Homo sapiens: one gene and its partners. The protein of the gene in region 1 interacts with the protein of each later gene in a biochemical or structural test. Each region holds a gene or a part of one and is shown in the gene's direction. Other genes may lie near its edges. The genes, in order: PBK, PTPN3, PDZK1, TJP1, RGS3, SNTG1 and APBA1.

Region 1 (3,500 bases):
TTCAAGCGATTCTTCTGCCTCAGCCTCCTGAGTAGCTGGAATGACAGGTACACGCCACCACACCTGGCTAATTTTTTTGTATTTTTAGTAGAGACGAGGTTTCGCCATGTTGGCCAGGCTGGTCTTGAACTCCTGATGTCAACTGATCCGCCTGCCTTGGCCTCCCAAAGTGCTGAGATTACAGGCGTGAGCCACCATACCCGGCCTCATTTTATTTTCATAGACAATTTTTATAACCATTTATTGAGATAATTAATGTATCATAAAAATCCACCTTTTGAAAGTGTAAAATTCAATAGTTTCTAGTATACTCAGAGATGAATATATTAAACCATTATCTGGTTTTAGAACCTTTTCTTCACCCCAGAAAGAAATCCCATACCCACTGGCAGTCATTCTGCATTCTTTGTCTCCCAGTCCTTAGTAACTATTCAGCTATTTTTGTCTCCATGATTTGCCTATTCTGGACATTTCCTAAAAATGGGATCATTGGACGGGCACGGTGGCTTATGCCTGTAATCCCAGCACTTTGGGAGGCCCAGGCGGGCATTATCACAAGGTCGGGAGTTCGTGACCAGCCTGGCCAATATGGTGAAACACCGTCTCTACCAAAAATATAAAAATTAGCCAGGTGTGGTGGTGGGCGCTGGTAGTCCCAGCTACTCAGGAGGCTAAGGCAGGAGAATTGCTTGAACCTGGGAGGCAGAGGTTGCAGTGAGTCGAGATCATGCCACTGCACTCCAGCCTGGGCGACAGAGTGAGACTCCATCTAAAAAAAAAAAAAAAAAAGGATCATCATATATGTAGCCTTTATGTGTCTGGCTTCTTTCATTTAGTATAATGTTTTCAAGGTTCATTCTTGTATATATCAGCACTTTATTCCTTTTTATGACTGAATAATATTCCATTGTATAGATATGCCACATTTTGTTTATCCATTCATCATCTGATGCAGAGTTCTGTTGTTTCTGCCTTTTGGCTGTTATGAATAATGCTGCTTGAACAGTTTCCTTAAAGGATATAAGAGAGCTGTTAACAACTGCTCCTGGGAAGTATAACAGGGAGACATACTGTTTACTTTTTTGTACTAGGTGATTTTTTTTTTAGCTAAGTGCATATATTACTTTATAATGAAAACAAAAATACCCAATCACTAATATTATGATGGGGGTAAGTAATTGTACTTTTTGGTTTTAGTTTCCTCATTTTAAGTAAAATTGGGCTAAATGTTTGTTGAGGTCCTTTTTAGCTCTCAAATTTTGTTTGTGATAACGTGAACGATAATGTTATAGGCTTTTTTTTTTTTTTGAGACGGAGTTTTGCTCTTGTTGCCCAGGCTGGAGTGCAATGGCACGATCTCGGCTCACCGCAACCTCTGCCTCCCAGGTTCAAGCGATTCTCCTGCCTCAGCCTCCCAAGCAGCTGGGATTACACGCATGCGCCACCACGCCTGGCTGATTTTGTATTTTTAGTAGAGACGGGGTTTCTCCATATTGGTCGGGCTGGTCTCGAACTCCCGACCTCAGGTGATCCACCGACCTCAGGTGATCCACCCACCTCAGCCTCCCAAAGTGCTGGGATTACAGGCATGATCCACTGCGCCTGGCTATTGGCATTTTTCTTCATGAATGAGAGTTGTATTCTTTATATCTGCTGTGTAACTTGCAATTTGTTTTCATCGTAGGACTGAGAGTGGCTTTCACAATGGAAGGGATCAGTAATTTCAAGACACCAAGCAAATTATCAGAAAAAAAGAAATCTGGTAAGATAGCAGATGTAAGATTTTTTTTTTTACTATTGTTGTTTCTCTTAGAAATGTCCTAGTATTATTTAGTTTGATCCTTTATTATCGGTCACTTAGAAACTTTAATGTAACTCCCCTTTATGATGTTAATCTTAACAAATAAGACTTATTTTATAGGCCACGGTTTGATCATCTCTGGACTAATTTTATTGACAATCTAACAGGTTTGGAGGCTCTCCCTGCCCAAGAATCAACTTAGCTTGACCCATTAAGGAACTGCTTTACCTTTCTCCCTCTCATCCATACATTGCTCTTGTGAGGGAAAGATATTTTCCAAGGCAACTCAATGGACAAAGGAAAATCTTTTCAACAAACACCTAGATATCCACGTGCAAAAAATAAGCCTTGACCCTTAACTCCTATTATATAAAAAATAGCTACAATTAAATTTCTAGAAAATAACATGAGAAAATATTCTGTTGTCCATTTCTAGTGACAGATTTTTCATATTGACCTTGTATCCTGCAACCGTCCTAAACTCACTTATTCTATTAGCTTTTTAATAGATTGCTTGGGATGTTGTATATGGTTGGTCATTTGTGGATGAAGAAAGACAGTTTTACTTTGTTCCCCAGTCTGTATGGCTTTGTTTCTTTTACTTTTTTTAATTGCACTGGCTCCAGTATGTTTTTGAATAGAAATGTTAGTGGATATACTTGCCTTGTTCCCAATGTATTATGTTAGATGTAGGTTTTTCACAAATACCCTTTATTAGTTTGAGGAATTTTTCTTCTATTTCTAGTTATTATCGTGAGTGGGTATTGAACTTTGTAGAGAGCTTTTTCTGAATCTATTAAATTTTCTTTTAAAATCTCTCAATGTGGTAAATTATGTTAATTTTCAAGTGTTAAACTGAACTTCCTTGTGTAAAGCCAGTTTGGTCATGATATATTTTATATATTGCTTGATTTGCTGATATTGTCTATATTCATGAGGGATATTGGACTGCAGTTGTCTTTTTGGGATATCTGTCTAGTTTTAATATTAGGTTATTCTGTATTCATAAAGATGAGAAATGTTTCTCTTTTTTTAATAGAAATATCTTTTTCTTTAACTTTGTGTAGAATTGGTATTATTCCTCCTTAAATTGGTGGAATTCACTAGTAAAGCTATCTGGGCCTGGAGTTTTCTTAGTAGGAAGAGTTTAACTGTGATTTCACAGTTAATAGATATAGGGCTATTCAAGTGATCTCTTATTTTCTTTGTGAATTTTGTTAGTGTTTTTTAAGGAATTTGTCCATCACTTCTAAATTTTCAAATGTACTGGTGTGAAGTTATTCTTGATACACCCTTATTAACCTTCTAGTGTCCTTTTTCATATCTGGTACTAGTATTGTATATTTTCTTAATTTTTTTCCTTAATCAGTCTGACTTGAGGTTTATGTATGTTGGTGAATGTTGCATGCACTTGAAAAGGGCATTTTTTTCTACTCTTACTGGGTACGGTGTTCTACAAATGTCAATGTTCTACAAATGTCAATGATATTCTGTATACTTTTTATATTAATTATGAGAGAAGAGAGTTGAAGTTTCCAACTACAATGTGGATTTGTCTGCTTCCCCCCACCCCCAATTTCTATCAGTTGTTGCTTCATGTATTTTGAAGCTTTGTTATTAGGTACATACACATTTAGGATGGTTATTTCTTTTCTTTTTCTTGTTTTTTTGAGTTTCCTTTTGTCACCCGTAATGGAGT
Region 2 (3,500 bases), on another chromosome or scaffold:
TGCCCCCTCCCCGCATCATATAGGAACTAGGGCTTCACAGGTGTACCTGGCCTGTGGCCCAGAGTTGGCGCTCAGGGAATATTTACAAATGCTGCAAAAGACCCACCGGTACAGGGTGTGGTAGGCAGCATTTCCTGGAGCTACAGGACTTGACAGCATTTTTTTCTTTTCCAGAGCCAGTACAAGTTTGTGTGTGAAGCGATTCTTCGTGTGTATGAAGAAGGTTTAGTCCAAATGCTGGATCCTAGTTAAGACAACTGTGAAAAAGTTCATTCCTCTTTCCCAAGGGCATCCTCCTTGAAAGAGGAGGACAGACCTCTCTGGAAGCAGCAAGAGGAACCAGTAGCTGTGGGAAAGGAATGGGCACCTCTGAACCCAGGCACTTTAAACTTCTATAGAAAAGATATCGTGTACATAGGAACTGGTGTAGATAAGCATGCAATTATGGCATCATTTAGGCCTGTATTTCTATGGAAAGATACAAAAAGGATCTCAGTTTGGGGCCTGTCCTAATGCCTTCTTCCCTAACATCACCACACACACCCCTGTCGGCATCCTGGAGCAATTGAGACCGGACACCCACAGAGCTGTTGTCCTCCCAGCAACAAGATGGTGTGGTTATCTTGGGTCATTTGGATGTTTTGTTTGTTTCTGTGTGTCAGACTGTAAGGGCTGAGCTTTCTGTGCTTCTAGGTGGAGCTGGAACAATTCAGATTCACCCGCCCTGATGCTAAGGAAACCCTGACGTATGTACTAGATGGCAGGGCACTGGGGGTCAGGCTGAAGGCTGAGCAACACCTCTCTGCCCTCCCTCCCTTTGTCCCATCTCCCAGCGACTTCCAATATTCATGTTTCTGAGAATTGTGTCCCTCTTCAGGTTCCCTCTTGGTGCCTAACCTGGATTAGTAATGTGCATTCAGGTGAATTTTCAGCTGAGGCTCTGAGAACTGGTACTCTCAGTGTGTTCTGGTCATCTTGTGGCTTAGTTGTAGAAGCAGGTGTGTCTCTTGCCTCTGCTTGCCTCCTACTGCACACTCAGCACCCAGGACTGGAATCACCGACTACTGAATCTCCTACATGTATTGCTGCTACTTCAAGCTCCTCCACTTGAAACCTTATGATTTTCCCAAGGGGAGATGGGACAGTGTCATCTAAATATTCCGAATGTTTGGCCTTCTGAGAAAAGAGCTTCTAGTAATTGAACCATGGGAAACCCAGCTTCTGGAGGGTTGGCCGTGGGGCTGTGTACATGTGTGTGCCCAGGGGTGAGTGTTTCTCAGGATTCCTAACGATTCAAATTACCGTTGAGTATATATAAAGAATGAGTCTCTGTATGGAAGAACAAATGTGTGCATTCACCCCCAGTCACAATGGTCTCCATTGCATTTCAAAGGAGAGGATCAGACTATCTGAATATAAACACAATCTGATGTTAATTTATTCTAAGAACACCATCATTTTGATTGTCCTAAAGAATTCTGCCTTTGTGAATACCGTGTTAAATTTTTTTAAATTTGTGACAGGATTGTAGCAAATTATTATTTAAGGAAAATAAATTGTGTAAACATTTAATGTGGTATTTTTGAACAGCGGTTTTTATGTACTCAGAAGAGGAAGTAAAGCCAGGTTCTTAATGGTATTTATAGAAAAGATGTTTTCATATTATAATGCACATAAATGAAGCCATTTTGATATTCAGCAAATTCGGTGCCAATTGAATAGTTTGCTGGTAGCAAGACGGATGAAGACCTATATGGGAGATTCTTTATCTCTAGAGCTAGCATATTTACTTGCATACTTTGTTTCTTTTCCACATGGATATTTTACTGCTAAATGGCAGAGGTGGGAGGGAGATGTCACACAGTACCATAACCCCATATTGAAAACAAGAAACCACCAGAAAGTTTGCAGCTAAGGGGCAGGGGATTCAGTTCCTACGCCCACTCAGCACTAACTACTTGCGGGCCTGGTTGCTTAGAAGCTCTACCTCTCTTTCATTATCTGTAAAATAGAAACAATACTTAGGACTTTAGTTGGAACATGAGGATTGAATAAGATCACGCTATTCATGTGACTTTTTATCGGCTAGAACAGCAACAGACACTGCTGTGGGTGAGTTACTTAGAAAAGTTTAGTTATCAGTGATTAGCCCAAAAACACATCAGTCAAAAATAGAATCCACTGGATTTTTGTCTCTCTTTTTAGAGACAGGGTCTCACTGTCGCCCAGGCTGGAGTACAGTGGCATGATCATTGTTCACTGCAGCCTCAAATTCCTGGGCTCAAGCAATCCTCGCACCTCAGCCTCCTGAGTAGCCGGGACTATAGGCACATGCCACCTCACCTGGCTTGTGTGTGTGTGTGTGTGTGTGTGTGTGTGTGTGTGTGTGTGTGTGTGTGTGTGTGTGTGTGTAGAGACAGGATCTTGATGTGTTGCCTAGGCTGGTCTCAAACTCCTGGCCTCAAGTGATCTTCCCACCTCAGCCTCCAAAACTGTTGGGATTATAGGCGTGAGCCACTGTGCCCAGCCTAACTGGGTTTTTATGAGAGGAAAATAGAAAATGCTCTTCTAGAAGAGAGAGAACAAGAGCACAAAATAATCTGGACTCACAAAAATTCAGCAAGCTCCAAGAAAGGGGGATGGAGGGAACGCTGGCAAAAATTTAAATGCCATTAGGATATTTAGCAAGTTATTACTGTTTGGTAAAAATGCATCATCACCCTGTGTGCAAAATGCTTGCAAAGTAGTCTAAATGTCTTTGGAGATGGGTGTTTTACTGCTTTTTTCCAAAAACAAATTGTTTATTATGGTTGCAGAAATGCAGCCATTACGGTCACATAAATTTCTAAAAAGCCTACCAAAGGTTGCAAGCAGTCTTCTGCCACTGGGCAGGCCAGCAGTTCAGACCCAGCGAGGTTGCCAGGAACAAATCCAGGAAATACTGGGAAGAACAAGACAAGAGAATTACCTAAAAGAGCAAACAATTCAAGTAAATCCTGTAGCTATTACCACTTAAAATCCGTAGCTCAAGATTCCTGTTTCACCACCTTATACACTTAAGCAATTATACTTAAGCCTTTTTTTAGTCCTAAGTGAAGAACTACATCAGAATCAGGATAAGTATTTTGCCTGGGAAATTTGGCTGCATATGAATGGAGAAGACATTTACATCCTATGTTCTGGCACTTTCTGAAAGATCTAATTAAACATGTTGATGTGCCAATTTAATCAAGATGAGAGATCCCTGCTGGTGTCACCCTCTAGAACCTGCACTTGGTGTTTTGACTTTCCAGAAGAAAAAAATGCAACTTTGGTTAGGGGGCAGTGGTTGGATCACACAGTTGTCTTTCGTTTCCTACCACAGTAATTCATATTTAAATATGCTTTTAGATTAGTGTGGATACTATTGCTGCTGTGTTGCTACCTGACCTTTTTCTGGGGGGGGTACCTCAGAAATGAGCATTTGAGGGCAAGCGAAAAAGCCCTCTTCATCCTCCAGA
Region 3 (3,500 bases), on another chromosome or scaffold:
ATAATGCAGTGTGGGCATGTTTTAGCGCTTTCTGGTTCAAGGGGCCAAGGCCACCCAAGATTCCATCTTTGCATTTAGCTGACCTCAGAAATTCTATTCAAATCAACAAATACCCACTGAGTAAAGGCTGTGTCAAGTTCAGTGCCAGGACCTATAACTGTGATTTTAGATCAGAAGCCAAAGGCCGAGTTAGCTCTAAAATCGGAAGTTTGTTTCACATTATTGGGAGAAAAGTCTTTACCATTGGATTTCGAGTTTTTCTTTGCAATGGAGTGTTCTGTGAAAGGGTGGTGTATGCAAAGCAGTCCCTCAAAGGCCAAAGGAGCTGAGAAACCAAAGGACAAGGCAGGCAAATCCAGTTTGTTGGTACATTGGAATTTATCAGGGGAACTTACGAACAGAAGCATGGTCTTGGACAGCCACAAAACATGTAGATCTCTGTGTTACTCCCCAGACCCAAGGCTGATATACCATAGGGAAAGGGTATATGTGCTCCAGCAAGACAATCGAAGGCAGCCCTCCGCAATAGCCAAGAATGCTATAGTGCATCATAGCCTATAATTTGCGTGATAACATTAAGGTTGACATGTTCTTAGACTAGGGACAGTAAATGAAGTAGAAATCGGGAGGCAATCACAGGACTGGGGCTAATCAGAAGTCAACATCACAGATTACCATCCAAGAGGGAGTCACTTGTGTCTCCACATGGAGTTTACCCCTACTCTCTTCCAGGTAAAAAGGGGGTGTACATGACTGATATTACACCTCAAGGTGTGGCTATGAGAGCTGGAGTTCTGGCTGATGATCACTTGATTGAAGTGAATGGAGAGAATGTAGAGGATGCCAGCCATGAGGAAGTGGTTGAAAAGGTATGCCCCAAAGGGTACTTTTCTTACCCTATCTTCCACTCTATTCTCATTGGAGGTGACAGGAAGACAGGGGTGGTAGGGGACAGCATGAGTTTATGATGGAAAAAATATCCAGTTGAGTTGCCCCTTCATATTAAGGGTGAACAGACTCACACTAGTGGTATAAGCAGTGTTAATATAGGGTTTTGGAATAAAGCCTTCCCTAGTTTCACATGAGGTCTACAAAATTATTAACTTTACCTTTTGGATCTTGTTTGTATCTGATTGGGAGCCCCCTCTGAACTGTTTGATTGAGACAGGGTCTCACTCTGTTACCCAGGCTGGAGTGTAGTGGCACAATCTCGGCTCATTGCAGTCTCGGCCTCCTGGGCTCAGATGATTCTTCTACCTCAGCTTCCTGAGTAGCTGGGACTACAGGTGTGCACCACCGCACCTGGCTAATTTTTATGTGTGTGTGTGTGTGTGTGTGTGTGTGTGTGTGTGTGTGTGTTTTGTAGAGATAGGGTCTCACTATGTTGGCCAGGCTGGTCTTGAACTCCTGAGCTCAAGTGATCTGCCCGCCTTGGCCTCCCAAAGTGCTGGGATTATGGGCGTGTGCCACTGCGCCCTCTGAATTTACAATAAGTTCACTGTTGAGCCGTTAATACTGAAATGCTTTAATAGGAAGTGGGAGATAACCGAGATTTTCCTTTGAGGTCATATGGAACCTTAAAAATTGACCAACCTTCTCTTTGTAGAATGATTTTTTGACGTGGACCCTTACTTTCTTTTCTTTTCCAAACTCCCTTTCTAGCTTTTATCTAGGTACCTTTATGGGTTTTCTGAATTCCAGCTCCTACTTGGGCTCAGTTAGCACCTATGTGGGTAGGTCATACTTAAATAAGGGAAAACAACTATAGAAGTGGAGATAGGGGCCGGGCGCGGTGGCTCACGCCTGTAATCCCAGCACTTTGGGAGGCCGAGGCGGGTGGATCACGAGGTCAGGAGATCGAGACCATCCTGGCTAACAAGGTGAAACACCGTCTCCACTAAAAATAAAAAAAAAAAAATTTAGCCAGGTGCGGTGGCGGGCACCTGTAGTCCCAGGTACTCGGGAGGCTGAGGCAGGAGAATGGCGTGAACCCGGGAGGCAGAGCTTGCAGTGAGCTGAGATAGTGCCACTGCACTCCAGCCTGGGCGAAAGAGTGACACTCCATCTCAAAAAAAAAAAAAAAGGCGATAAATACATATCAGTTAGCTGGTAGGGCATAGTGTAACAGCTTAAACTCAGGCCTTTCATCCCCTATCTTTTGTTGAACCTAGAGACTGTGTGCCTTTATACAGAAACTTTCTTATTCCCCAGCATTGTTCTTGGGGGTTGATGTCATTCCTCATCTGTGTGTGTTGTTACAGGTGAAGAAGTCAGGAAGCCGTGTCATGTTCCTGCTGGTGGACAAAGAAACTGACAAGCGTCATGTTGAGCAGAAGATACAATTCAAAAGAGAAACAGCCAGTTTGAAACTGTTACCCCACCAGCCCCGAATTGTGGAGATGAAGAAAGGAAGCAATGGCTATGGTTTCTATCTGAGGGCAGGCTCAGAACAGAAAGGTAAGGTACAAGAGCAGGAAACTTGGCAGTAACCAGCAAATTCCTCATCCCATTCTGACTCCAGAGTTCCATTAGGTTCCCAACTCCCAGCCAGATGCATGAGCGGCATAGCATAGAAGGCACAGCTGGGTCAGCGTCTATGTCACATGAGGGTCTGATGTTGGGCATCAAAAGTTTCCATAGCATTATGATAAGGCAGAATTTGGGATCTGGGCAACGGTATCCTGGTAAGTTAGCTCTCTGGGGCGGGGGTGGGGGGAAATCCAAATTGGTAGCGTTTGTTTTTGGTACCAAATTGGTAGTATTTTGTGATGTAAATACTCCTCCCATGTCCAGTTTCAACTTACTAACACGATGTCACTGAACACAATGAAGTGTTGCACAGAATTGGCTTTTGTGAGCCGGTGTGAGCCAGTATAGCACACCGCTGGACCTGAGGCCGAGGTGTGGGTGAGGATTTGGGACTCAGAACCAGGAGTCCTCCTTCCTTGCAACTCAATAGGAAGAACACTAGGTTCTTTCAGGGAAGGTAAATACATAAAAGAACATGAGTTCGGGCCGTATAAACTGCTATTCGCCCATAAGTTGTTATTTTCTTTTCACTCTCTGTTTACATTAATTTATCAAATATTAATTTGGTTTGTGTTTTGTAAAAACATCCTCAGTGCCTTGGAGAAAGAATATCATATGAAGCAGACAGGAATTCTTTAGTGAAGGAGTCTACCATTTAGTAGATAAGAGATATGTCCATAATGAAGGGAGATAGAGGTTAAGTACCTTCATACAGGGGCAGATCAAGCACTGTGATAATTCAACGTTAGAGTAAGCTTTTCTCACTAAAAAGGTACCAGAAGCCCTCATAGTAGGGGTGGCACTTGAGTTCAGGCTTTGTAACATGAATAGATTTGGGAAAGTAGACAGAGCTGGGATAAGGAAGATCATTCCAGGAAGGTGGGAATCATGTGAACACAGTCAGGAGACACTGGCACAGTTTAATTGGCACATGATGTGTAGTACAAGAATTCGTTGGAAAGGTAGGTTGG
Region 4 (3,500 bases), on another chromosome or scaffold:
CATCCACAGATGGTCAGGGGCGGACAGAGCTGGCCTCTGCTCTGCAGCTCAGGCTGCGCTCTGCTCCCTTGATGTTGTGTCGTAGGATGTCGTCCCTGGCACTCCGGTCATGCTGGAGTGAAACGGCAGCTACCTTCATGTAATTCTGTTTCGTTGGTCTTTCTGCTCACCTTTGAGCCCTGGCTCAAAACTGTACTTTCAGGAAGTTGATAGCCTCTACTTTTGAAGCAGTCATTGATACCACATCCCCTTTGCCTTTGGCGTTCTGTGATTACTAAGTTAATCTACTGTCTCTCTTTCGTGGATGTTTGGGATATGCCCATACAAGGGTCTTCGCCTCATGGAACCTTGGAAGCCTTGCCTCCTACAGCCAGAGCGGGCGCTTGGTCCTCAGGGAATGCTGAGGCAGGACCATACTCAGGCACACTTAAAATCCTAGGGAGATTTTATCAAGTCTGAGATGCTGTCAGCCGTGAGATGCACCATTGTTTTGTGTCACTAAAAATGGAAGAACAGCCAGGCACGGTGGCTCATGCCTCTAATCCCAGCACTTTCGGAGGTTGAGGCGGGCGGATCACTGGAAGTCAGGAGTTCCATCCTGGCCAACACGGTGAAAACCCATGTCTACTAAAAATACAAAAATTAGCCGGGCATGGTGGCAGACGCCTGTAATCCTAGCTACTCAGAAGCTGAGGCAGGAAAATTGCTTGAACCTGGGAGGTGGAGGTTGCAGTGAGCCAAGATTGCACCGCTGTACTCTAGCCTGGGTGACAGCAAGACACTCCATTTCAAAAAACAACAGGAAGGGAAGAACAGGGCTACCAATTAAATTGTGACTTACCAGTTTTAAAGTTCCAATTTCATGGATTTTAAAATGTGCTTCATAAAACTCTGTACCTGTTTAGTATCCCTTGTCCAAACTTCTTGGGTTCTGAAGTGTCTCATATCTTGGGTTTTTTTGGATTTTGGAATATTGCCAAAATGCTCCAATGAGCATTTCCTTTGAGCTTCATTTTGACACTCAAAAAAAAGTTTCCGATTTTGGAGCATTTCAGATTTTCAGGTTAGGGATGCTTCACCTGTAGTTGGGTGTTCAAGGCATCAGATTTTACACTTTCAGGTTGCAATTCATTAATGAAGGTCGTTTGACTAATTGCCTTCAAAAATTGAATTTTTGACATTTCTCTAGAATTTTTGAAATTTTCTAGAATGGAATTTCTCTAGAAATAATATTCTCGCCAGGCGCGGTGGCTCACGCCTGTAACCTCAGCACTTTGGGAGACCAAGGCAGGTGGATCACGACGAGATCAGGAGTTTGAGACCAGCCCGGCCAATATGGTGAAACCCCATCTCTACTAAAAATACAAAAATTAGCCAGGCTTGGTGGCGTGCGCCTGTAGTCCCAGCTACATGGGAGGCTGAGGCAGAAAAATCACTTGAACCTGGGAGATGGAGGTTGCAGTGAACCAAGATTGTGCCACTGCACTCCAGCCTGGGCGACAGAGTGAGACTCTGTCTCAAAACCAAACAAACAAACAAAAAAGAAATAATATTCTCTGCGATAACCCTGTCAGTAAAATCTGTTGCCAGAAACTTATCTTGTTAAAGTAACTTCTTGATTATATGGAGAAATAAAAGTGAAAGCACGTAATACAGTAGTAGTAAAAGCAAAGCACCTGTGTATTATTAGGAATTCACTCACTAGCCATTTCTGAACTTTCAGTCCTTCAGCTGTGGAAGAGGATGAAGATGAAGATGGTCATACTGTGGTGGCCACAGCCCGAGGCATATTTAACAGCAATGGGGGCGTGCTGAGTTCCATAGAAACTGGTGTTAGTATAATTATCCCTCAAGGAGCCATTCCCGAAGGAGTTGAGCAGGAAATCTATTTCAAGGTCTGCCGGGACAACAGCATCCTTCCACCTTTAGATAAAGAGAAAGGTAAATGTGTTTATTTTTCTCCTTAGTTTTGATAACTTAAGAGTTGCCCTGTGTGCACTTCAGAGCTTATAGTGCTTGGCTAATAATGCAGCACCTCTCTATCTCCAGATGAGTGCTGTAGCGAGGGGTGCCCTGGGGACGGTGTTGCAAGCAAGCAGTGGGTGGCCTGAAGCAAGGCTGTGGTGACCACACTGCCTGCTTTTACTTTTGGTGTGAAATAAAAAATGATGGCATAGGACAGGCCACGGGATGTCTCACCTGCTGAGCAGCCTAGGCTGACCTAACCAAATTTGTCTTTGAATCAGTCAGCCTTTGCGTCTCTGGAGATGGGTTAGGTAACACCCACTCAGAAAGGCTTTGCTGTGCCTTCACCTGATTGGAGAACCTAAACCTCTTGACAGGTACTGTCTTATTCATCACCCCAGAACCTAGCACTAGTACATGCTCAGCAGAGTGCATGAAGGAGTCTCAGAGGAGATGACAGCATGTTTCTGAGCTTCTTAAGGAAACTTATTTTCATAATCCTCCTGGATCTACCAGGATATTATAACGAAGTGTGTTGTGATTTAGCATCTTTTAGCAGTGCTTTTACTTCCTAAACAAATTTAGTTCGCTTTTTTGTATTTTGCCGGAATACTGACATCTGATTCTGTACTCTGATTTTGGGGATATCCTGTTTTAAAAACCAGTAGGACTGACTGTGTTGGCCCTGCATGAATCTCTTTAACCACCTATGGAGCAAACAAAACATTTTGAAAATGGAAAATATATCACATTCGCAACAAGCACATTTGAATATGTTTTTTATTATAGACCCATATGATTGAATGCAGTAGCCACTGCCTGCACGTGGCTAGCTAGCACTTGAAGTGTGACAATTTGGGATTGAAAGATGCTGGAAATGTGAAATACACACCAAGTTCCAAAGATTTCATATATTGATTACATGTTGAAATAACAGTGTTTTCGTTATATTGAGTTAAAATATTAAAATATTGTAAGATTTGATATCACTTGTTTCTTTTTACTTTCTAACGTGGCTACTGGGAAATTTAAGATTCCATATGTGGCTGCTGTTACGTTTTTTTGTGGTCAGTGCGACTGTAGAGAACTAACTCCATTAGGCTTTCAAGCATATAATTAGAAGCAGGGTGAGGAAAACTGGGATTCTAGAAGAAAGACCACATCCATCCTCTCTGCCTATCCCCTTTTCCAACTCCAGGTGAAACACTGCTGAGTCCTTTGGTGATGTGTGGTCCCCATGGCCTCAAGTTCCTGAAGCCTGTGGAGCTGCGCTTACCACACTGTGCGTCCATGACTCCTGACGGTTGGTCTTTTGCTCTAAAATCATCCGACTCCTCGTCGGGTATGCTGTCTTCACTCTGTCCTTTGGGAGCTTTGGGGACTGTCGTTGATTAATACCTGGGCTGATGATGCTGCCCATGCTGTGTGTTAGCAAATCTCTATCTCTGTTCCTGTGGCCTTGTAGGCATCACCAGTGTTTTCACATTTATTTGTGGTGCATATATTGTAAATAAATATGGAAAGGTAGAAGACTT
Region 5 (3,500 bases), on another chromosome or scaffold:
TGGGTGCAGTGTTCTTTGTGTATGTCAAGTTTAGGTCAAGTTTGCTCTTTATATTGTTCAAATATTCCGTATCCTTGTTGATTTTTCCTGTTTTCTCTGTCAGTTCCTAAGAGAGGTGTATTAGAATTCCCACTGTGATTGTAAATTTGTCTATTTCCCATTGCAGTTCTGTCAGTTTTTCCTTTACATATGTTGAAGCTATGTTAACAACATACAGATTTAGAATTATTATCTTTCTGGTGAGCTGAAATTTTTATTATGAAATCTATTATTGTTATGAAGTCTTCTTTATTTCTAGTAGGTATAAAGTCTAATTTTCCTGATATTAACATAGCTAACCATGCTTCTTTCATTTAATATTTGCCTGACATATCTTTTTCCATCCTTTTTCTTTCAACCTTTTTGGATCTACATTGTAGGTGTGCTGTGTCTGCTGCAAAGAACAGGCACATGGCTGGGAGTGGTGAGTGGCCCATGCTTATAATCCCAGCACTTTGGGAGGCCAAGGCAGGAGGATCACTCAAGCCCAGAAGTTCGAGACCAGTGTGGGCAACATAGTGAGAGCTCATCTCTACAAAAAATAAAAAAATTAGCTGGGCATGATGGTGTGCACCTGTGGTCCTAGCTACTTGGGAGGCTGAGGAAGGAGGATCACTTGAGCCTAGGAGGTCAAGACTACAGTGAGCTGTGATTGTGATACTGTACCCTAGCCTGGGTGTCAGAGTGAGACCCTGACTCAAAACAAACAAACAACAAACAAACAGTATAGGCAGAGAGTTGTTGTTATTATTATTATTTTCTTCTCAATGCAGACCTAGGATGATATTTTCCTTCAAAAAATCTTTGTTCGTTTGTCAGGTGCCTAGGGTCACTGGGTTAGTCTTAATTCAGTGTTGGGACTGAGAGTACTTGAAATCGAGCTGTAGTCCCTGGAGTAGCTGTGTCTGATTACAGTTCACTCTATTCCTATGGAGCAACCCTTCAGGGTCCCTATGCAAAAGGTGGGGCTCAGAAGAACCCTGCTTCTTGGTGGGCCCTGGTCCCTAGTTCCTATTCCTCTAGCCCTGAGAAGCAGGCAGAAACTCACTCAGTCTCTTGATCTCTCAATCAGCCCTCTGGAATTTGAAAACACCCCAGGAGGAAATTAGCCCAGAAAAACACTAGGTTTCCTTCTACAGTCCTCCATTCCCCTAGATCCTGCCTGGTAGCTCCTCTCTCTCTTGTTGTTTATCTAAGAAGATGCTTTAACATATTTTGTTTAGCATTTCTAGTTTTCCTCAGTGGATCTGTCATCCCAGAAATGGAAGTCCCCTACATATATTTTCTAAGCTTTTTTGAGTTGGTTTTTGTTTTTTTTTCCCTCCCTTTCTGCCTCTCTCCCTCCTTTTCTCCTCCCTCCCTGCCTCTTCCGTCCCTTCCTCCCCTCCCCGCTCTCTCTCTCCGTCCCTCCTTTCTTTCTCCCTGCCTGCCTGCCTACCTGCAGTTGTCCGAGCAGGCATTACTGGGGCTGGAGGGTCCCTTTCCAAGATGGCTCATTCACATGGCTCTCAGCAGGAGGCCTCAGTTCCTTGCTACCTGTAATTAGGAGGCTTCTGTTTCTCATCGCATGGACCTCTTCGTAGGATTGCTTGAGCTTCCTTATTATGTGGCAGCTGGCTTCCTTCTAGGCAAGTGATACAAAAATGAAAGCAAGAAAGAACTCCCATAAAAAGATGAGTAACCCAGCTCAAAAATGGGTAAAGGATTTGAATAGACATTTTTTTCCAAAGAAAAATGGCTAACAGCATGTGAAAAAATGCTCAATGTCATTAGTTATCAGGGAAATGCAAATCAAAACCACAATGAGATACTATCATACTAGAATGACTATAATAAAAAAAGAGCCAATAACAGGCGTTGAAGAAGTTGAGGGGAAATTGGAACCCTTGTACACTGCCGGCCGGAATGTCAAATGGTGCAACCACTTTGGAAAAGTTTGGCGGTTCCTCAAACAATTAAATGTAGAGTTTCCATTTGACCCAGCAATTCCACTCTTAGGTATAAATCCAAGAGGAATGAAAACACATGCTCACACAAACATGTGTACACACACACATGTTCATAACGGCATTATTCATAGTAGCCAAAAAGTCGAAATAACCTGAAATATCCATCACCAGATGAGTGGATAAACAAAATGTGGTATATCCATACAATGGAATATTATTTGGCCACAAAGGGACTAAAATACTGATACGTGCTACAATATGGGTGAACCTTGAAAACATTATGCTAAGTGAAAGAAGTCAATCACAAAAGACCATGCGTTGTGTGATTCTGTTTACATAAGTATCCAGAATAGGCAAGTCCTTAGAGACAGAAAGCAGATTAGTGGTTGACAAGGGCTGAGGGGAGAAGGGAATAGGGTGTGACTGCGAAAGAGTATGGGATTTCTTTTAGGGGAGGATGAAAATGTTCTAAAATTAGATAGAGGTGATTGATTACAGAATCCTGTGAATATACTAAAAGAAAATTACATGCTTTAAATTGGTGAAGTGTGGCCGTGCACGGTGGCTCAATCCCAGCACTTTGGGAGGCTGAGGCGGGTGGATCATCTAAGGTCAGGAGTTCGAGAGCAGCCTGGCCAACATGGTGAAACTCTGTCTCTACAAAAAATACAAAAAATTGGCCAGGTGTGGGTGGTGCATGCCTGTAATCCCAGCTACTCAGGAGGCTGAGACAGGAGAATAATTTGAACCTGGGAGGCAGAGGTTACAGTGAGCTGAGATCATGTCATTGCACTCCAGCCTGGGCGACAGAGTGAGACTCCATCTCAATAATAAACAAAACTGATGAAATGTATGATATGTTAATTATATCCCAATACAGCTGTTAAAAAAAGAAGGAACTAATAATACCTTTAATATCCTAATGTTGAAAGTCATCCACTGTCATTTCTACCACATTCTATTTGTTAGAAGCAAGTCACTAAGTCCAGCCCATGTCTGAAGGGAGGAACTAGGCTTCACCTCTTGAAAGGAAGAGTATCAAAGACTTTGTGGACAAATTTTAAACCCATGATAGGTATAGAGAGGCTAACAGTGGGGGCCCTGGACTGCCTAAATGCAAACCCCAGCTCTGCCACTTACTGGCTGTGTGATTTGGACAACCTGTTTTAGCTATTTTCTTTTTTTTGAGTTGGGGTCTCACTCTGTTGCCCAGGCTGGAGTGCAGTGGTGTGATCATGGCTCACTACAGCCTCAACCTCCTGGGCTCCAGTGATCCTCCCACCTCAGCCTCCTGAGTAGCTGGGACTACAGGTACACACCACCACGTCCGGCTAATTTTAAAAAAACGTTTTTGGAGAGACAGAGTCTTGCTATGTTGCCTAGACTGGTCTCAAACTCCTGGCCTCAAGTGATCATCCTGCCTCAGCCTCCCAAAGTGTTGGGATTACAGGTGTGAGCCACCATGCCCAGCCAACCTGTTTACCTCTTAATAATCTTCAGCTTCCTTGCCTG
Region 6 (3,500 bases), about 23 Mb from region 1:
GGGCATTTATCATTCTCCCCTATCAGGCACAGAGGAGAAGTGGTGTGCCGCCCTAGTGGTATTGCCATAAGATGTCTATCTGATTTGCTTTCTTTACTCACTTCAACATTCTGTATTAAAGCACATTCCCAATTAATAAAATGTCAGTAATTGGTAAACAAGTGCGATGCATCAATGAATTCTATTATAAATAAGTATTTTTTTCTGTAAGAATTGATAGAGTGGGAAATATAATCCATGGCAGGTTGGATGGCATAAACACTTGATAAATGCTGGTAGAAACGTATAAGAAATTCTTATGAGAGGTTTACATTCATTTACTGAAGCCAAATCTGGTTTAATGTACTTTTTTGCATCAATCAATTTGATAATTTTATGTGAGTTTTTAATACTACATGAAAAATACCTAAAATATTTTTAATATTTGCATCTAAATATTTTTAGATATAAGATATCTAAAATAAGAAGTTTTGACAGTTGATTGTATTCCATTTTCTTGCAGATTGTCTACATGGGCTGGTGTGAAGCCCGGGAGCAAGACCCCCTCCAGGACAGAGTGTACTCCCCGACCTTCCTGGCCCTGAGGGGCTCATGTCTCTACAAGTTTCTGGCACCTCCAGTACGTGTTTTATTGAAATGTATTGGTCGTTTCCATATTATCACAAGAGATTGACACCAACTTAACAGCACCAAATAGTATACCATCAATATTTTTAAAAAATAATATAGAGAAAAAGTAGAAATCAGTTTATCTGATTTAACTTACTAAAATATATATTCTGACATTAAACATTTGCTTTAACACCCTTGAAAAGTCTGGAACTTACTTCTTTATAAATAGTGAACCTATAAAATAATGGATCAAATTATAATGCCATTACAAATCTCATGACGACATGGGAAAGGAGATTTTAAGAAACATTTTCAAGCATATGTCAGTGTATTTTGTTTATGGAATAAAAATTAAAGAAATGAATATATCAAAAGTGAAATAAAAAAGAATAAACTGTTTTAGGGCTATACATGAATGAACATGTTTACTAAACTCTTATTTTCCAAGGATCTTTTGAAAGTTCTTTTAAATTTATTCAGCACTTTTAATTACTAGTAATTTATTATTAGCAAAGAATAATAAGGAAATTTCAAAATGATAGCATCTTATCTAGCTACTATTAAGTCTATCTCACCCTATGGTAATCCCATAGGATGATGTTAACTCTCATGGTGTTCAACATTTAAATTAGAGGATTCTATCCTTGGCAAACAACACAAATACATTCTGGTAAGCTATCATTTATGACAAGTCGAACTTGCTTATTTATGTTGTACAGGTCTCTCTATATAAAATCAATAACATTTTCATCTTCTATTATATTCTATATCCTAGTTATTGAGATTTGTACTAGATATGTATAGATACCTATTGCACCTCAAGTCTTGCTTTTGGAAACATGTACCTTGCAGCTCAGAAGACACTTAATAAATATTTATTGAATATAAATACCAAATGCCAGACCAGTCACTTGCAGGTCTAATAATACATAAGATTTAGAAATCATCAGGTCTAACTTGCTGCTGTTTTAAATGTCTGTCTCTACACAAAGTTTAAAGCACTAGGAAGACAGAGGAAAAATTGATATTTATATATTTTACTCTATTCCTACTCTGAATAATTTATTTGACAAGACAGTTAAATATAGTTTCCAACCTAAGTAAGTGAAATAACTGCATTATGCTTTGGGTATGTTTGCAATGTCACAGTCATCTTGGAATTTCTTAATATAAATGATGTATATTTAAAAAATATAGCTGTGTTGAGGTCTGGTATTCTCTGTATTTAACTAGTGGTAAATTAAAAAAAAAATATGAGTGTGGAATGTAAATACTTAGTATTTATAGGTAGAGAATGCGTATATTATTTAAGATATATAAGGACACTGGGCAAATGAGAACTGTTGCACATAATATAAATCATTTGCTGAAAGCATAAGACAAATGGTAACAAAGCTTGGAAAAGAGGAAACAAAAGCATTATGTAGGGTCCTTTATGAGCATGGCTTCACAGATGAGAGACTAGATACATCTGTGAAAGTTTTTTCTTATTTTTCACTATATTATGCAAATCAAATACAGTGGTAAATAACTTTCTAAAACAAATTAAACATTATTTTCTTATCTTTTAAAGGTGACCACCTGGGACTGGACGAGAGCAGAGAAAACATTCTCAGTTTATGAGATTATGTGCAAGATCCTCAAGGTATGATCAATATGTAGTCAGTATTTGAATGGCTTTTCCTCAGCAAATAGTGCCTCTGGGCTCATAAGCAGCTCATGAAAACAAATCATTCATGGAATGAAAGAAGAGACACGATAAAGACAAATGAAAGAGAAAGAAAATAAACTGGACAAAAAAGAGAAAATATAGAATGCACAGAAGTGCACTGGCACTCAGCTATCTGCTTAAATAACTTGCAAGCAGACTCTGCAGTCCCACCGTGGGTGAGGGAACAGGGAGAAGCTCCTCAGGAGTTCACTGGGGAAGAAGAAAATTCAGTTGAAAGTAGTCTGAATTTAAACGTTGGTTGTTACCATGTTTTTTTTTTTAATTCTTTTTTTCTGAATAAAATGCAAAAGAGAAAGATTTGGGTGAGACCTGGAATTAGAAAATATAGAAAATATCAGGAAAAATGCAAAGAAAAGTTTTGCTGTTTTGTTCTTAATCTCATGGCTTGACCATCTTTTTGCATATGTAAAAGAACATTCGATTGTCATATATCAGTTGAATTTCATGCCATATGCAGGATTATTACAATATCAAGCCATCACAAATTCTATAAAATGTCACATGGTTTCTATAGCGTTTTTTAAAGAATTAAAATTGGAATAACCTATAAAACATGAAGACTAATATATATTCACTTTCTACTTTAGGGTTTGTAGGCTTGGACTCACCACAGATTGATAATTAAATTCCTGCATAAGGTTGACCTTGTTTCTGTATCCAAGGGGAGCTAATTTCCCTTTGCTTTATGTTAGCTATTTCTCTTCCCGTTAAAGACTTAGCAGAGTAGAAAAATGCTGAAACATTTAAAATATAATAAAATGCATCAAAAGTGTCTGAAGGCAGAGAGACAAAAATTATAATTACCTCAAAATTGTTTATAGTTTCTGTTCCTTATAGAGAACTTTGGATTAAAGCTGAAGTTCTCTGAAGTGCAAAATCCAGCCAAAAGTATAGTTCATTGATTGCTCATCACTGTGCATGCTTTGAGTTCTTCTGTAGGCGTAATGGTGGAAGGACAACCTGAAATACTTGAGTGTATTGTTAGTAAAGAAGGGTCTGACAATTTCTTAAACAGAGGCTAGTATCTGAGGAAAAGGAGATCATACACGACTCCAGTTTTCTGAAATAATTGCCAAAATGGCTAATGAGATAGCTTTCTTTTTTTTGGAGATGGAGTCTTGCTCTGTTGCTTAGGCTGGAGTGCAGTGGTGTGATC
Region 7 (3,500 bases), on another chromosome or scaffold:
GTTTTGTTTTGTTGTTATTGTGTTTGTTTGTTTCGGAAGACTTAGGGGTAAGAGATATTTGAAAATTGACCTCTGGGGCCAAAAGGAATTAACTGTAGTACCTTGGGGAGATAGGACTTTTATCCTAGAAAGAAGAAGTAATTGTTGCTAAAATTGAGAGAATTTCAAGCCGTAAAATCTGAAGTTAACTCTCTGGGTTACAATAATTAATTTGCAAACATTTGTTAATTGCCTCCCGCATCTCAGATCCACTGTACCTTTGGATAGGGGACAGGGAATGTTGAGAAGGGTTGGAGGTTCAAAGAATGCTAAGTCTTAGATCCTGGCCAGAGGTGGATCATGATCTAGAAGGAGAAAAGAGGAAATATGTTACTAACTGTAAAAATAGTGAAAAATGATTAAGTGCTGAAAAAGCAGTATTCCTGCAGAGCTGTGGGAGTTCACAGGGTACAAAGTGACTTCTGATGGAAGAATTAGGGAAGGTTACATGGGATATAGCATTTGAGCTGTGATTAAGGTGGCATTTGGGTTGGCAGAGAAGGAAGGGCATGCTTGGGGGAGGAACAGTGTAGCACAGGCCTGGCAGTGGAAGGTGTATGCCTACACAGGAAACAAAAAAATGGTGTGCTTTGGCTGAAGCGCTAGGAATGCCAAGAGATGTAATGAGGGATAAAGCAAGAAAGAGAGGTTTGTTCAAGGTGGTGGAGCAACTTGTACGCCAAGCTAAGGAGTGTGGATTTTGTTCAGTAAGGACTGGGGAACTATAGAAGATTTGTGAGGAGAAAGATTGACAGTATCAGAACTGTGCTTTGGGGCAATACTTTTGTAGTATTATGTTGGATGGAATGACATGGGAAAAGGCTGGCAGGAGGGAGACCAGATAGACTCTATTGTCAAAGTAGGGGAAAGATGGAAAGAGGCAGTGGGAGGCAAGAAGGGAACACACCTAAGAGGTGGTGTGCGGGAATTATCTGAGGAGCTTGAACAGTCACTGGAAAGTGAGGAAGGGAAAAGGGAGGCCAAAAGATCATTGTCAGGCTTAGCTGAGAGAGCAGTTGGGTCATTTTCAGAAAGAAGATATAACAGAGGATAAGGAAGAGGAGAGAAGTTTCTTTTTGAGCATGACAGGCTTGTCCAAGTTAAGGGACTAGAATACAGAGGGAGGTTAGAGCTACCAGGAGATTTGTAGGTCATCTGCTTAGGAGCGATTTTCATATCCCAGGAATCACTGATAAAGAAAATGAAGAAAGAAGAAGCAAAAGTAAGGATAGGATCCTTGAGGGATGTCTGTATGTTGGAGGGGAAAGAGAAAGAAGAGGACAGGAACCACGTTAAACAAGGGGCAATTGGAGAAAAATGATGGAAGTGAAGTGGTACAGTGTCATGGAAGCTGGAAGGGGTGAGGAGAGCCCCTGTCACTCACACAGCACACCCCATGGGTGACGGTGCAACCAAGGCAAAGCCATTGGATTTGACTCTTGGATTTCCTTGATTGTCTTTGTGGTAGGTGGAAGTGGCAGCCAGGGGCAAGGGTTGAAGGGAGGCGTGGGGGAAGGGAAATGGAAAGCAGTGAAAACAGACTTCATTTTCAATAAGTTGGGAGATAAAAGAGAAGGAGAGAGAGTATGATATATCACAACAATGGTGTAGTAGAGGGAAAGTGGTATTTTTAGTATAGGAAGACTTGAGCCTGCTTTATAAGCTGAGGAGAACAATCCATTGAGGGAAAAAGAGATTGAAAATGTAAGGGAGAGGCTCAATTGAGGGAATTAAGTCTTCAAGAAGATGGGAGGATACTAGATGAAAGCAAAGGAAGGATTCTTTTGAGACAGAAGCATAGGAATTTTGAGGTGGAAAGAAAGGAATTTGGCCACAGTCTTTTAAGTGAGGTCAAAGAGAGGTGGGCAGGTTGAAGCCAGGAGTAGAATGACAAAGACTTGTGGGCATTGTGGAAACAGAGCAGTGAGTCAATTAGGAGTGAATAAAAGATCATTACCCAACCATGAGGACCTCATGTGTTTGAAAAGCAGGAATTTGTAGTGAAACCAATTAACGCTATATAATTGGAGTTTGACAACTACTTAAGTAATTTTTGTATAGTGAGCATTTAATCTCACTAAATACAGTGGTTCTTCATTCCCTTAAATGCAGTAAAAAGAGGAGAATGTTTACCTTTAAAATTATCCAAATAAAAGACTCCACTTGTATTTCCTGTAAATATTCTCTCTCAGAGATCTGAGCTAAATTTTAAGAAGTTTATAGTAAAACAATGGGGAAAAATGTAAGTGTTTTTTTAAAGGATGAGCTTTTTCTATCTGTAATGGTAGAATATGGTTTTACAGTGACGTACATGTAAAGTCAGTTTTCAAAAGAAAAATCAAATATAGCACCTCGCCCAATACCATACCCATCATATGCATTCAATATACATTTGTCACATGAATACATGAATAAACTTTTTTTAAGTAAGCTAGCAACAGTATCTAAAATTTTAAATTTCAGGATTTCATTCTTACACAATGGACATCGAATGAGTTGCCTTTTATGGCCTGTGCAAGTTTATGATAGCATTAAAACTATTTATTCATACCTGATATATACATTGAAGCTTTATTTTTAAAAACCCCACATTTTTCACAAAATGATTGTGAACCCTTTAGATCCTTGAGTTATGGGATTATGTCATGATTCCAGGTGAGTTTATGGAACTTCAACTGTAATGAGTGGTGATTTTGAGGTTTTAATGATGAAATTTATTCATTCCTTCAACATACACTCATTGAACACTTTCTCTGGGCCAGAAACTATTCTAGGTGCAAGGAATATGGGGTGGGGGGAGGCATGTCCTTAATATCACAGAACTTTTAGTGGAAGGAGATTAAAAATAAATAAATAAGTAATTACATAATATGCCAGGTGGTAAGTGCTATGACGAAGAATAAAAGAGAGAGAGCAATGGACTGATGATAGTGGGTGGGTGGGGGGTGACATTAGTTTATATAGTATGGTCAGGGAAGACCTTAAGCAGAAAGAGCTGAAAGATGTGAAGTAGTGAGCCCTGCAGATATTTGGGGGAAGGGTCTTCTAGGCAGAGAGGATATCAAAAATGAAAAGGCTGGATAAGAACATGTTTGGCATCCTCAAGGGACAGCAGGGAAACCTTATTGGTTTCCTTGGTTTACCTGGAGCAGTCACTTAGGGAATTCACAATAAAATGCTTTGCCTTTCATTTTCAATTGTTTGCCCATAAGGCTGTATTACCATCTACTGTATTTGGGCTGACCTATGAATCAGTACTGGGTTTATATAAAGATGAATATCCTCAATCAAATGTATTTAAGTTAGAAAACAATCATGCCTGTAATCCCAGCACTTTGGGAGGCTGAGGCAGGCAGATCACTTGAGGTCAGGAGTTCGAGAGCAGCCTGGCCAACATGGCGAAATGCTGTCTCTACTAAAAATACAAGAATTAGCCGGGCATGGTGGCGCATGCTTGTAGT

What was found.
Region 2: the proteins of PBK (region 1) and PTPN3 interact in a test that uses a peptide from one of them, tested with the Homo sapiens proteins (one large-scale study listed by IntAct).
Region 3: the proteins of PBK (region 1) and PDZK1 interact in a test that uses a peptide from one of them, tested with the Homo sapiens proteins (one large-scale study listed by IntAct).
Region 4: the proteins of PBK (region 1) and TJP1 interact in a test that uses a peptide from one of them, tested with the Homo sapiens proteins (one large-scale study listed by IntAct).
Region 5: the proteins of PBK (region 1) and RGS3 interact in a test that uses a peptide from one of them, tested with the Homo sapiens proteins (one large-scale study listed by IntAct).
Region 6: the proteins of PBK (region 1) and SNTG1 interact in a test that uses a peptide from one of them, tested with the Homo sapiens proteins (one large-scale study listed by IntAct).
Region 7: the proteins of PBK (region 1) and APBA1 interact in a test that uses a peptide from one of them, tested with the Homo sapiens proteins (one large-scale study listed by IntAct).

The regions. Positions count from the first base shown.
Region 1 is NC_000008.11:27,831,318-27,834,817, reverse strand, and holds part of PBK (lymphokine-activated killer T-cell-originated protein kinase), read left to right. Parts: intron 1-1,684; 5' UTR 1,685-1,704; coding exon 1,705-1,762; intron 1,763-3,500. UniProt on the Homo sapiens protein: Phosphorylates MAP kinase p38. Seems to be active only in mitosis. May also play a role in the activation of lymphoid cells.
Region 2 is NC_000009.12:109,376,308-109,379,807, reverse strand, and holds part of PTPN3 (tyrosine-protein phosphatase non-receptor type 3), read left to right. Parts: intron 1-174; coding exon 175-252; 3' UTR 253-3,500.
Region 3 is NC_000001.11:145,679,869-145,683,368, reverse strand, and holds part of PDZK1 (Na(+)/H(+) exchange regulatory cofactor NHE-RF3), read left to right. Parts: intron 1-732; coding exon 733-869; intron 870-2,261; coding exon 2,262-2,457; intron 2,458-3,500. UniProt on the Homo sapiens protein: A scaffold protein that connects plasma membrane proteins and regulatory components, regulating their surface expression in epithelial cells apical domains.
Region 4 is NC_000015.10:29,703,969-29,707,468, reverse strand, and holds part of TJP1 (tight junction protein 1), read left to right. Parts: intron 1-1,723; coding exon 1,724-1,941; intron 1,942-3,163; coding exon 3,164-3,307; intron 3,308-3,500. UniProt on the Homo sapiens protein: TJP1, TJP2, and TJP3 are closely related scaffolding proteins that link tight junction (TJ) transmembrane proteins such as claudins, junctional adhesion molecules, and occludin to the actin cytoskeleton.
Region 5 is NC_000009.12:113,470,227-113,473,726, forward strand, and holds part of RGS3 (regulator of G-protein signaling 3), read left to right. Parts: intron 1-3,500. UniProt on the Homo sapiens protein: Down-regulates signaling from heterotrimeric G-proteins by increasing the GTPase activity of the alpha subunits, thereby driving them into their inactive GDP-bound form.
Region 6 is NC_000008.11:50,656,407-50,659,906, forward strand, and holds part of SNTG1 (gamma-1-syntrophin), read left to right. Parts: intron 1-502; coding exon 503-619; intron 620-2,185; coding exon 2,186-2,257; intron 2,258-3,500. UniProt on the Homo sapiens protein: Adapter protein that binds to and probably organizes the subcellular localization of a variety of proteins. May link various receptors to the actin cytoskeleton and the dystrophin glycoprotein complex.
Region 7 is NC_000009.12:69,665,872-69,669,371, reverse strand, and holds part of APBA1 (amyloid-beta A4 precursor protein-binding family A member 1), read left to right. Parts: intron 1-3,500. UniProt on the Homo sapiens protein: Putative function in synaptic vesicle exocytosis by binding to Munc18-1, an essential component of the synaptic vesicle exocytotic machinery. May modulate processing of the amyloid-beta precursor protein (APP) and hence formation of APP-beta.